Regions from separate parts of the Homo sapiens genome. Here all the other regions are linked to region 1. Evidence: fine-mapped expression QTL. A gene starts in region 1. Each other region holds a variant in brackets. All regions are shown on one strand. Distances are between the middles of the regions.

Region 1 (4,246 bases):
TACCAAAAAATCCAAAAAGCAATCTTAAAGGTACCTTTAAAATAAATGTGTATTTAATCAACTGTTTGTTTAACTTAAGTAAACAATTAATACAGAGATATGAATTGTGCTTTTCTCTTTTGCACTTCCTTGTGTGCGACTCTTTCCCTGTCAATCAGAGGCACACATACTACTCTTGAGAAGAACTAGGATTGTTATAGGAGGAATACAAAACACAAAAGCAATATTTGCTTTGGGGAAGTTTTTACTTCTAAAATAAATTATTGAGAATCAATAGGAAAAAGCTGAAAGTACAGGGCATAGACCCTAGAAAGAGAAGGGTAGACTTGTGGTTTACCATATCTCTTACCACTGGGGAGATTCAATAAGGATGGCCTGGACTAGGATGTCAGCAGACAACTAAAAATGGGCTTCAGGCTTGGAAAAACGTCAGGGGCCTTAATATGAAAGGACTTGACTTGGGGAGGTCACATGAAGATGAGTAGAACCAGTGGCCTATGAAAGCTGAGCCAAAGTCTTCAGATGACCTGTGGCCTCTTGAGGGAGCACCTTGTCATCCACATTCGCTGTTCTTCTTAATCCACAGGGTAAAGGCATTCTATGGAGAGATACTTGTGTAGCACCCCTTAGTTTAGCCTGTAAGACACTCACTTAGCTCCAAGAGTTTGCCAAGCACCCACCAAACATCATTATAAAGAAACAAGCACCTCCCTGTATTGTGATATAGAACAGTCTCCAAAATATATTGTTAGGAATAAAACAAAAAGTATAATAATTTATGTAGGATACCATTTTTATAAAAGAAAACCTATATAGATGAATATGTATCTATGTGTGTGTGTGCGTGTGTGTGTAGCCAATTTTTTTTTTTTTTTTTTTTTTGAGACACAGTATTGCTCTGTCACCAGGCTGGAGTGCAGTGGCGCGATCTTGGCTCACTGCAACCTCTGCCTCCCAGGTTCAAGCGATTGTCCTGCCTCAGCCTCCTGAGCAGCTGGGACTACAGGCGCACGCAACCACGCCCAGCTAATTTTTGTATTTTTAGTAGAGATGGGGTTTCACCATGTTGGCCAGGATGGTCTCAATCTCTTGACCTTGTGATCCACCCACCTCGGCTTCCCAAAGTGCTGGGATCACAGGCGTGAGTCACCGTGCCCAGCCTCCAATTATTTTTATATTTGTATGTGTAAAGAATGTCTCTGAAGGATACAGAAGAAGTTGGTGCCAATAATTGTCTCTGGAGAGTAGAAGGGTGTCTGAGGAATTAAGTGAGTGAATAATTCCTTATATTGTAAAGCCTGGTTCCTTCCAAACATTTTTATCCTGTGTATGTATTATATATTCCCAAAATTGAATAAAATAATATACATAAATATTCACACAATGTGGCCATTTTGCTTCTAGATAAGTTGTCTGCAGAAGCCCTCACTCATGTAAAAAGGAGAAAAAATGCAACGTTGTTTGTAAGAATGAAACACCAGAAACAACGAAAATCGTCATCAATAGAGAAATGAGTATGTAAAATATGAACTAGAATATAGCAATTAGATAGGTAGACTAAATAGATAGGTCTAGCATAAAATAGCATATCACAGTTAAAGGAAATGAACAGGATTGATCTATCTGTGGATTGATCTATGTGTATATCAACATAGAAAGGCTCAAAAACATGTTGAATAGAAAAAGGAACATAACATAGAATATATTTAGCATACAATTTAAGTGAAATTTTAAAGACACACCAAGTAAGACATATTTTAATTTTAAAGACACACATATAAAAATGGCCTGGAAGGATATTAATTCACCATGTACTTTGCCTTCTGGAAGGCAAGGTTGCGTGGGGTGTGGGGCTTCCTCCATATCTGTAATATTTTATTTCCTAAAAATAACTACAAAAATAAAAAACAGCAAGCAAATATGACAAAAGGGTTAAAAGTTTTAATTCTGAGTGATAGAAATATAGATGTTTGTTATTTTATTCTTTGTGTTTTACCGTATGTTAAACATTTCCAGATATTTAAATAAGAGTAAAGAAGACACATCCAGCCAAGGTCCTCCAGATAGATCCTTTTGCTTTCTTTCTAAAGTCAAGTAAATTCTAAACTAACCTTGACATTATTAGTAAGTTTTGCTTTAAAAAAAATAAAATTTTGTGTTAGAAGTTTTAAAACATTTGGAAATTCTAGTTGCGGCTTCAGATTTCATAATTCAGATGATGCAACAGGATGGAACCATTGTCAAAGAGAATGCAGGGACGTTTGATGCTTGTTAGGACATGACTCCTGTACTTGCCCATTTGTTCATCCTCCAACCCCTCTTTCTTCCAAATTCCATGTAGCATATTCTCTCCAGGAAGCAAGAAGACTTGCCTGGCGGCATACTCATTTTCCCCATGCCTCTTTGCTGTTTGTGGAAAATAAAGCATTCTATAGGCGGAGCTAGTGAACGCCTCTTTTAAAACACGAGTCTCCACACTTCCCTGTTCACTTTGGTTCCAGCATCCTGTCCAGCAAAGAAGCAATCAGCCAAAATGATACCTGGAGGCTTATCTGAGGCCAAACCCGCCACTCCAGAAATCCAGGAGATTGTTGATAAGGTGAGTTGATGCCATTCAGGAAAAAGTCTGAGCCAAAATCTTGATTCATAAGTTGTCCCTGTGGAAAGGCTGTGGTTGAACATGAAAACCAGAAGTTTAGGATGTTTGTGGCTTTGTTCAGGTTTCTTTACAACTAAGATGAAATAAGAGTTTTTCAGATGAAGCCTCAAATAATCCCCAAACTGTGAGTGTGACCTTGAGCAAATCACATTTCTTCTCTGAGCTTCATTTTCTCCATGGGTAAAAGAATTTGTATTGTATCTTCTCTAAAGCTCTTACAAGATATGATTCTAGAATTACTAATTCAGTTTCTGATGAAACTTTTCTAATCTCACCAAGTGAAGCCAACGTGTAATTGAAGTCTAAGGTTATTAACAATTTGATGAAGTAGTCTTGGAATGCACTGCAGGGAAAATTTTTTTAAATAGATTGAATGAAGAATAATATTGTAAAGGCAATCTACTTACAAACTTCATACACTTTTGCCCAAATAGATAGTGTTTTAGTCTTTTCATAGTTAAAAGGTAATTCAACTAATAGAACAGAGGTGACAGTCTATAGTGACTCCGAAATGTCATAGGGCACCAAATTATATATGGAAAAATAGAACTCAATGTTGTTAGCAGATTGATGTGTTTTTCACTTCTTCTTTTTTGTTTTGTTTTGTTTCATTTTTAAGAGATGGGGTCTCACTCTGTCACCCAGGCTGGAGTGCAATGGTCTGATCACGGCTCACTGTAGCCTCAACTTTTTGAGTTCAAGCGATCCTCCCCACTCAGCCTCCTGAGTAGCTGGGATTACAGACATATGCCACCACGCCTGGCTGATTTGGGGGGTTTTGTTTTGTTTTGTTTTTAGAGATGGCATTTCATTCTGTTGCTAGACTGGTCTTGAATTCCTGGGCTCAAGCCATCCACTCACCTAGGCTTCCCAAAGTATTGGGATTACAGGCGTGAGCCACCACACCCATCCCTGATATATTTTTCTTTGTGTGATTAGCTATCATCTAGCTATGTAGTAAACATTTATTTGCATATTTTATGAAAGGAAAACATGTACAAATTACTACTTTAGGTTTTTAGTTTGTTGCCTTATTTTCTTATATTATTCCTTCTTATTTTTTCTCTCTGAAACATCATTCTATGACAGCTTGGAAAACAAGATCAGCTTTTTGTGTGATTATAAGAGTTGGGATCCTGTATATTCTGGGAACTAGAAAGCTCTCTAAGGGGCCAGATGCCTAGAATCCCATCACTCATTCTTGGGGACTAATTATTTCTCTTTCAAGAGTTCTTTTTTTAAATAAATATCTTGGAGCTTTTTTCCTGGGAGATGATATTAAGTCAGTAATGTCTTCATGTGAATCCCCAGATCAGATCAATGTTCTCAAACTTGAATGTGCACATGAATCACCTGCACGTCTTGATAAACCTTAGATTCTGATTCAGGGGACCTGGGGTAGGTCTGAGATTCTGCATTTCTACCAGACTCCCAAGTGCTGCTGCTGCTGCCACCCATGGCCTTGCTTGCTGGCAGGACCAGAGATATATGGCATCCTACAAGGCCAGTGGGAGATGGGGCTTTAAAAGTCAGGGTGCAGGCTGGGCTCAGTGGCTCATGCCTGTAATCCCAGCACTTTGGGAGGCT
Region 2 (4,246 bases), 780 kb after region 1:
GTCACTAATTAACTTTCCATTCAGGGTTTCTCCTGGGACCCTGACTCCAGAGAGATGGAGGACCCCCCGACAGGAGGGGCCCATCACCTGCAGGCCCATGTTCTGGCTGTGGTTTTTGTCAACCCGCATGGTTGGGCAGAAGCCTGGTCACAGACGCTGTGCCACGGCACCTAGAGAGGTCATAGGCCAGTTAAGTGAGAACTTATCTCCCCACTGGCAAAGAATAGGAAACTCGAAGTGGGGAATGTCCCCTTTAAGCTGCCCTTTCCTTGTTAGCACATACTCCCCAAATCCTTACTATAGAAGTGGTAAGGGCCAGAGGTGCCTGGCAGTCTGGATTCAGATGACTCACTGATGACCTCAGGGCCCAGTAGCTGTGAGCCAGGATTACAGCTATGAAGGCCAGATGTGGTGTCAGACAGTGCCTGGGACTCAGAGCACCCAGAATAGGACAGTTGAGGGTGGGCTTCCAGGTGCTGCTCCCTGCAGACTTTTGCCCTGAGGTCTTGTCCAGTTAGATCAACTTGGAGAGAACCTATGGGTGGGGTTATTCAGCTTCAGTTAAGTGAGAATAATCCTCACCTGAAAAACAAGGTTGTGTGTACGAACATGTCAGTTGTTACGTTAAAAGGCCATTTATCTCCTTTTTCCATCCACTGCTATCTTTTTTTCTTGATGCTGAGGTGGAGAAGGGGGAGGAGGGCTGGGCGTGGGGCCAGGACACCCCCCAGAGCAAGCAGTTCCTAACTTGTTCTGGAGTCCTGATCCCACTGAGCACCTACTGAACTCCAGACCTTCTCCCTGAAAGCGTGTGTGCATACAAATCAAAGTCAATGTTTTCACATGAGTCTGGGGCTTCACCGACTCCTGAAGTCCCTTGTGCACCCTAGATTAAGAACCCCTGCACCAGGTATTTCTGGAACCCCAGGCAGGTGGGTGCCTACCAGCATCTTTCTCACATGGCCTGGTGGACAGGTGCCTCTGCAGCTGTGGGTGAGTGTGGGTGTCGGGAAGACCCTGCCAATTCCATAGTTCCTTATGTTGTCATGGCAAAGCCTTGACAAGGGACTGAGAAAGGGTGGATCCGCCTTTTGCTGTGGCAGAAATGGCTGTTCTTTTGCCAGGAGGCGTTTCACAGCTCCACTTGGACAGGCAGGAAGCACTACCTGAATGAAATCCTATGAAGTCTTGGCTGTCTCCCATTCTCCCGTAGTAGTTCTTTCCAAATAGAGTTTCCAGAAATAATAAGGTCCTCTCCGTGTGTGACCAGTGGATGGGCTGAATGCACACCCTTACTATTATAGAAGGGCACTTCCCTTTCTCATCTCAGGCCACACACACGCACACACACACACACACACACACATACACTCTCAGTTCAGCATCTGCTCGCTGGAGCGTGGTCAAAGTTGACAGAAGTAACAGAATCTGGCTGGGGTCTGGTTCCTGATCCTGGCTCTCAGACTTTGAGCACCGTCTCTGAGTGACTGAAGGGAAAGGGAATGCTGCTTCTGCCCTGGACCAGTGAGAGTGGCAGAGGATACAGAGGAGGGTGGAAGGACAGTGCCACTCTTCCCTGCCCCTGTGCATCTTCCCCACAGGGAGTGGAGATTTGAGTCATTGTACACATAACAAAGGCCAGCGAAGCCCTTTATCTGTAAGAACTTGGTCAGATCTTCAATCCAGGCAGTCTAGAAGAGGGGCCCCAGCATGAGAAGTATAGCAACAAGGGTGAGGCCACATTGGTGCCCACCCTGCCCTGGGGGCTTCCCAGCCTGGACCTCACTCATTCATATACAGAGGCGGATAATCAGGATTTAATCCACTCCAAAACCAGTTTAGATCATGAAATACCAAGCAGGTCATAAGTAGGTATGATGATCTGCTTATGGGATGACAGTTTTAGTGGCTGCAGGAATGTGGAAATGTCTCCTTTGGACAAGACTGAGACCATTATTCCATTAGTCAGAAAGACTTCTTGGAGGAGATGAGATTTAGTAGAAGCACTAGTATGTCTCTGGTTTGAATAAGCCAACTCATTGTCTCA[A/G]ATTTTCTCTTTTTTGTCCTTGAAGATGCATAGTAGGCATGGACTACCTGGCTGGAGTGAGCAAGGTGTCTTGTGATTGAAAAAGCCCGATGGGAGTGGTGGAGGTGCATTTTTGGGCACTTATCCATGATGTCAGTGGACAGCGGAAATAACACACCCTCCAAGCTTATGCCACATGCAGTCCTGAGCTCAGCAGCTGGTGTGCCCAGGTCTCCAGGCAGGGAAAGAGGACAGGTTCCTGATTCCCCCACCTCCCTCTTTTCAGGGCTAAAATGCATTTTCTCTTCTCTTTTTTTTCCCTCAGTCCATAGTGGCCTTTTTGAAGGATCCAAAAGGGCCCCCACTGTGGGAGGAAGATCCTGGAGCCAAAGATGTTGTCCACCTTGACAGTGAAAAGGTAATGTATTCCCCGTCAGTTCTGATGGATGCTGGAAGCTTCCCTGGTACCAGGGCCTCCCAAGGAAAGGAGCCCAACGAACTGAGAAATGGGACTATTCCAGGATCACTTGTACTTTTCCTCTAGGGAAGCTAGGCCAGGACCCTAATATTTGACTCCCCTTCCCAGCTCCATGTTGTAACCAGCGGTGATCACAGGTTGCCTGAGAATTTTCTCCATTCTTCACCTTCCTTATTTAATGCATTTGAACACGTTTAGATTTTCCATACATTAATGTAGATTTAAATGTTCTCTCTCTATTGTGTAATCCAGATGTTGTTAGGATTGGCTTTACATCTTGTTTTTTTGTTTTTGTTTTGTTTTTTTAAAGAATAACCTTAGAGATTTGGGTTAGATTTCCAGAGACTTGAGGCAGATCTCTACAATTCTGGGTCATTCTATAGCTTTCAACCAATTATTTACCTTCTTATGCTTCAATTTCCAAATTTGGCCAGGGGTGGAGGTAGAAGGGTAGATCTAGATTATGGTGTTTATTAGTTCTTAAGTATTTAACAAAAGCTATGACAGGCCGGTTGTGGTAGCGGGTGCCTGTGATCCCAGCTACTCAGGAGGCCGAGGCAGGAGGATCGCTTGAGCCCAGGAGTTCAAGGGTAGCCTGGTCAACATAGTGAGACCCCCATCTCTAAAAAAATAAAGAATGCAAAAGCTGTGACACACATTGCCCCTCCATCCACAGCCTGCCCACCTGACCTGAATGTGCATCTTTAGCCATGTGCATCCGTGTTTGTATGATGCCTTCACTTGGGATGGGCAAGAACTTCTCTGTGATAGTCCAGATGGTCTGTGAGGCAAGCAGTGCTTTTTGTAGGTAGAGGGAGAGGGTTCATTCCTATCTCAATAAAATAAAACATAGCTTTCATCTTTCTCTTCCTCCTCTCCCCTTTCCTTTAAAATTGTTGACTTTTTTTGTTTTTAGAGACAGGATCTCGCTCTGTCACCCAGGCTGGAGGAGTACAGTGTTGTGATCATAGCTCACTGTAACCTTGAATTCCTGGGCTCAAGCAATCCTGCTTCGACCTCCTAAGTAAGTGGGACTACAGGCACATGCCACCATGCCTGGCTAGTTTTTATATTTTTTGTAGTGATGGGCTATCACTGTTGCCCAAGCTGGTCTTGAACATCTATCCTCAAGCAATCCTCCTGCCTCAGCCTCCCAAAGTGCTGGGATTACGGGCATGGGCCTCTGTAACTTGCCTATTGACTGTACTCTTAATGCTTGTTGGCCCAGAAGAAAATGATGCCTTTTTTTAACCTTCTGGAGGAAGGTAAAATATGTCATCATTGTGAGCCAACCTAGTGGATCAGTGGTGATTCAAATTAAGGACTGGGCACAACATTCTCTGGGATACAAAGAGCCAGTATTGTCATCTTGAAGATGTCTTTTTTTTTTTTTTTTTGAGACAGAGTCTTACTTTGTCACCCAGGCTGGAGTGCAGTAGCGTGATCTTGGCTCACTGCAGCCTCTGCCTCTGGGGTTCAAGCGATTCTCGTACCTTGGCCTCCTGAGTAGCTGGGATTACAGGTGTGTGCCACCATGCCTGGTTAATTTTTGTACTTTAGTAGACATGGGTTTTCACCATGTTGGTCAGGCTGGTCTTGAACTCCTGACCTCAAGTGATCCACCCGCCTCGGCCTCCCAAAGTACTGAGATTACAGGCGTGAGCCACTGTGCCCGGCCTTAAAGATGTCTTTTTAAAAAGCATGTGGGCCCGGCACTGGCTCACGCCTGTAATCCCAGCACT
Region 3 (4,246 bases), 20 kb before region 1:
TCAAACGGTAGTTCTGTTTTTAGGTCTTTGAGGAATCACCACACTGTTTTCCACAATGGCTGCATTAATTTACACTCCCATCAACAGTGTATAAGCATTCCTTTTTCTCCACAACCGTGGCTGTACCTGTTATTTTTTGACTTTTTAATAATAGCCATTCTTACTGGTGTGAAATGGTATCTCATTGTGGTTTTGATTTGGATTTCTCTAATGATCAGTGATGTTGAGCTTTTTTTTTCATATGCTTGTTGGCTGCATGTATGTCTCTTGAAAAGTGCCTGCTCATGTCCTTTGCTCACTTTTTAATGAGGTTGTTTGTTTTTTCTCGTAGATTTAAGTTTCTTATAGATGCTAGATATAAGACCTTTGTCAGATGCATAGTTTGCAAAAATTTTCTCCCATTCTGTAGGTTGTCTGAAACATTTTAAATATATAAAAATTCATTAGTTCATAATACCACTCTCTTAAACCCCATCCTCCCAAAAAAAGAATTTTTAAAAAACTTAATTCTCACAATTGGAAGTTTCAGGGCAATAAGTTATTATTTGTTCATTGATTAATTAAGAGAAAGAAGTAAGCATTTAGCCTTCCTTTCTCTACTTGAACTGTATTTTAGGGTAATCAAATCATTGATGATGGAAAATTCTTCTTTATGTAAGTATTCAGTTAATATACAGAATTTAGTAACAGACTATATAATAACCTATCTAGCTATATAAGTATGTCAAAACTAATTAAATTGTATGCTTTAAATATGTGTATTGTACATCAATTATATACCACAATAAAACTGTCAAAAACTAAATATAACAACATGCACAAATAGCAAAAGTAATGACAGGACTAGAAAAATCACCATTCCACTACACCTGATGAAGCAATGCTGTCAAAAAAGCACTCAAGAATGTAGGAATTAATGTATTTTTTTATTAATGTAATAAAATATATACACCTCAGTCCTAAAGCTAGCAATTTACAGATGACATAATATTTGTAAAATCTTAGAAAAACAAAGTAAAACTAACAAAGCAATTAAAAAATTCTAAAGTTAGCAGGATGTAAAACTAACATAACAGAAATCAACAGCCTTTAGAAATACTAACAGTAACCAATCAGAAAATAAAATAGAGGAGAAAGTCCTATTGACAATAACAACAAAAAAAAGATGAATTCTAAGGAATAAATTTAACAAGACATGTGCAAAATCGGTATGAAGAAAATTTTGAAACACTCCTAAAATACCAAAAACTAGACTTGAATGAATGGAAAGATGTTCTTGAATAGGATCACATTCAAAAGATGTCTGTTCTTCCCAAGTCGATTCACAATTAAATATATCAAGAAGATTTTTTGAAACTAGATAAGTTGATACTAAAGTTCATGTGAAAAAATAAATGTGCAAGAACAGCTTTAAAAAAAAAAACTGAAAAAGAACCATAAGGCCAGTCGTCAGGTGGGTAGAAAAAAGAAAAAGAAGAACTATAAGGGAAAAGTAGCACTACCAGACATTAAAATATATTTTAAAATCTCCAGCCAGATGTGAGGGCTCACACCTGTAATCCCAGCACTTTGAGAGGCTGAGGCGGGTGGATCACCTGAGGTCAGGAGTTCGAGACCAGCCTGGCCAACATGGCGAAACCCTGTCTCTACTAAAAATACAAAAAATTAGCCGGGCATGGTGGGGGGGCACCTGTAGTCCCAGCTACTTGGGAGGCTGAAGCAGGAGAATTGCTTGAACCCAGGAGGTGGAGGTTGCAGTGAGTGCCATTGTACTCCAGCCTGGGCAACAGAACAAGACTCTGTCTCAAAAATAAATAAATAAATAAAATAAAATAAAAAAGAAAAAGAAAAGCTCCATAATGAAAGTTTGGTTTTGGCACATACATAGATAGATCTGTGTAAATGAATTCAAAGTCCAGAATTAAACCTAAATATAAATGTAAATTTAAAATATGGTAGAAAAAAAATCATATGGCATCTAAAAAAATCACTGGGGCAAATATGACTATTTAATATATGGTGGGAAGACAACGTGATAGCCATTATGAGAAAGATAAAATTGAATCCACACTCTAAACTATACATAAGAATAAATTCTTCTGGGCTTGGTCGCTCACGCCTGTAATCCCAGCACTTTGGGAGGCCAAGGTGGGCTGATCGCTTTAGCTCAGGAGTTCCAGACCATCCTGGGAAACATAGTGAGACCCCCGCTCTCTACAAAAATACAAAAATTACTCAGGCATGATAGCACGCATGTGTACTCCCAGTTATTCAGGAGGCTGAAGTGGGAGGATTGCTTGAGCCTAGGAGACAGAAGTTGCAGTGAGCCGACATTGCTCCACTGCACTCCAGCCTGGACGACAGAGAGAGACCCTATCTCAAAAAAAAAAAAATAAGAAGAAGAATAAGAATAACCTCATAATAGATCAGAGATCTAAACTTAAAAGATGATGCTGGCCAGGCATGGTGACTCACACCTGTAATCCCAGCACTTTGGGAGATAACGAGGTCAGGAGTTCAAGACCAGCCTGGCCAATATGTTGAAACCCCATCTCTACTAAAAA[C/T]ACAAAAATTAGCCGGGCATGGGGGCGCGTGCCTGTAGTCCCAGCTACTCAGAAGGCTGAGGCCGGAGAATCACTTGAACCCAGGAGGCAGAGGTTGCAGTGAGCCGAGATTATGCCACTGCACTCTGGCCTGGGCGACAGAGCGAGACTCTGTCTCAAAAAAAAAAAAAAAAAAAAAAAAGAAGCAGCAGCTAAACCATATAAATACAAGGAGAAAGCAATGGTGAATTATTAACCTGAGGAAAGACTTTCTAACTGTGACTCCAAATCCAGACTCAGTAAAAGAAAATACTTATTGATAAATTTGACTATGTAAAAATAAAAAATTGGCACATCACAAAAAAGAGCACCAAAGGCAAAGTCAAACTGAGAGAAAAATATTTGCAACATCTGTCATAGGTGATGGGCAGTACCCCAAAACTCAATATAAAAATGGGCAAAAGACACCAACACACCATTACATGAGGTTAAGAAAAAGGCTGTGAAGGTGAGCAGGCTCTTGTCCTGATAGGTTATAAGCAAAGTTAGCACCATTTCTCTTCTAATAAAAAGAGAAATAATCAGGCTGCAAGGGCTTTTATGTCAGATTTTTTTAAGACACCTCTGAGGGATACTTAATTGAAAATAACCAACTGAGTTAGGAAGCTGCTACATAGCCTGACAACAGGGTTAGTTTTATCAGTGATTAATAACAATTGAAGTCTCAGGATAACACCAAATCTTATTTGTGAGTTTGCGTTTCTTTCTATCTGGCCTTAAAAGTGACTAAGTAAGAATGTATGCTTAACTTTGAAAAAACAACTCTTTCTATTTCTAACACTTGACCAGACAGCATAATGATCTCTTTAAGCAACAATTCCTTGTTAAGTGGCTGGAGTTAAGATTCCCTCCAACCACTAGATCCTGTGAAACTATGATAATTCTGTGATAGCCCAGTGGAGAAAGCATAACAGAGGTGCCATTGGCCACTTGGTGGCAATACATCCTAATTGCGTGTAAAGTTCTGAAACGGTAATAAACAGCATGCTAACAGACTTGGAAGCTAATTTATGCAGACATTTCAAGCAGTTTACAGGTGCCTTAGTTGGAAAGGTCAGCTAAATGCTTAATATCCTTTAAAGGTGCATTAGAAGCAAAGCAAAACATACCTTGTGTTTGCCAAAAGTATTTGTGGGTACTCTCTAGGAAATTCTATTAGGAAATATCTTTGGAGCTAGAAAAGATTCAGAGGGAAAGTAAAACTGCTGACATAGTAGCAATAACCAAAAAATACATAGACTGTAAAGAGATTTCATTAATAATATTAAGAACCTACCACTGTGTGTAGTCATCTGAGCTTGAACAAATCAGTTAAACTTTCAGGGCTTCGATTTCTTTGCCTGAACTGTGAGCTAGCTCAGAGGTCAGCAAATGTTTTCTGTAAAGTACCAGGTAAAACCTTGCAGACCAGCAGGGTGCAGTGGCTGGCACTGTAATCCCAGCTACTCAGCAAGCTGAGGTGACAGGCTTGCTTGAGTCCAGGAGTTGGAGCCTGCAGTGAGGTATGATTGTCCCACTCCACTCTAGCCTGGGTAACAGAATGAGACTCTGTCTCTGAAAAGAACATTTTTAAATGAAAAAACTTTGCAGGCCATACGTTGTTTGTTGCAACTTCTCAACTCTGTCATTGTAGCATGAAAGCA

Direction of the effects. Alleles are on the strand shown, and positions count from the first base shown. SD is a standard deviation of normalised expression in the study named. Not every link is listed here.
In carriers of allele C in region 3, the expression in whole blood of the gene that starts at base 2,489 in region 1 tends to be lower than with T alone (moderate effect, 0.53 SD a copy in Lepik 2017).

The links.
Region 2: its variant is fine-mapped to the expression of CSTA in unexposed skin (GTEx, PIP 0.98).
Region 3: its variant is fine-mapped to the expression of CSTA in whole blood (Lepik 2017, PIP 0.95).

Annotation. Positions count from the first base shown.
Region 1 is chr3:122,322,760-122,327,005 of GRCh38, forward strand. It overlaps CSTA (cystatin A), which reads left to right and starts at 2,489. Exons shown (of 3, transcript NM_005213.4): 1 at 2,489-2,599. The coding sequence starts at 2,534. RefSeq lists an enhancer at 1-4.
Region 2 is chr3:123,104,398-123,108,643 of GRCh38, forward strand. It overlaps PDIA5 (protein disulfide isomerase family A member 5), which reads left to right. Exons shown (of 17, transcript NM_006810.4): 6 at 2,352-2,444. Among named protein-coding and RNA genes, the nearest start is that of PDIA5, 39 kb to the left of the region's middle. The variant A/G (reference allele first, on the strand shown) is at 2,048.
Region 3 is chr3:122,302,478-122,306,723 of GRCh38, forward strand. No RefSeq gene overlaps it. Among named protein-coding and RNA genes, the nearest start is that of CSTA, 21 kb to the right of the region's middle. The variant C/T (reference allele first, on the strand shown) is at 2,565.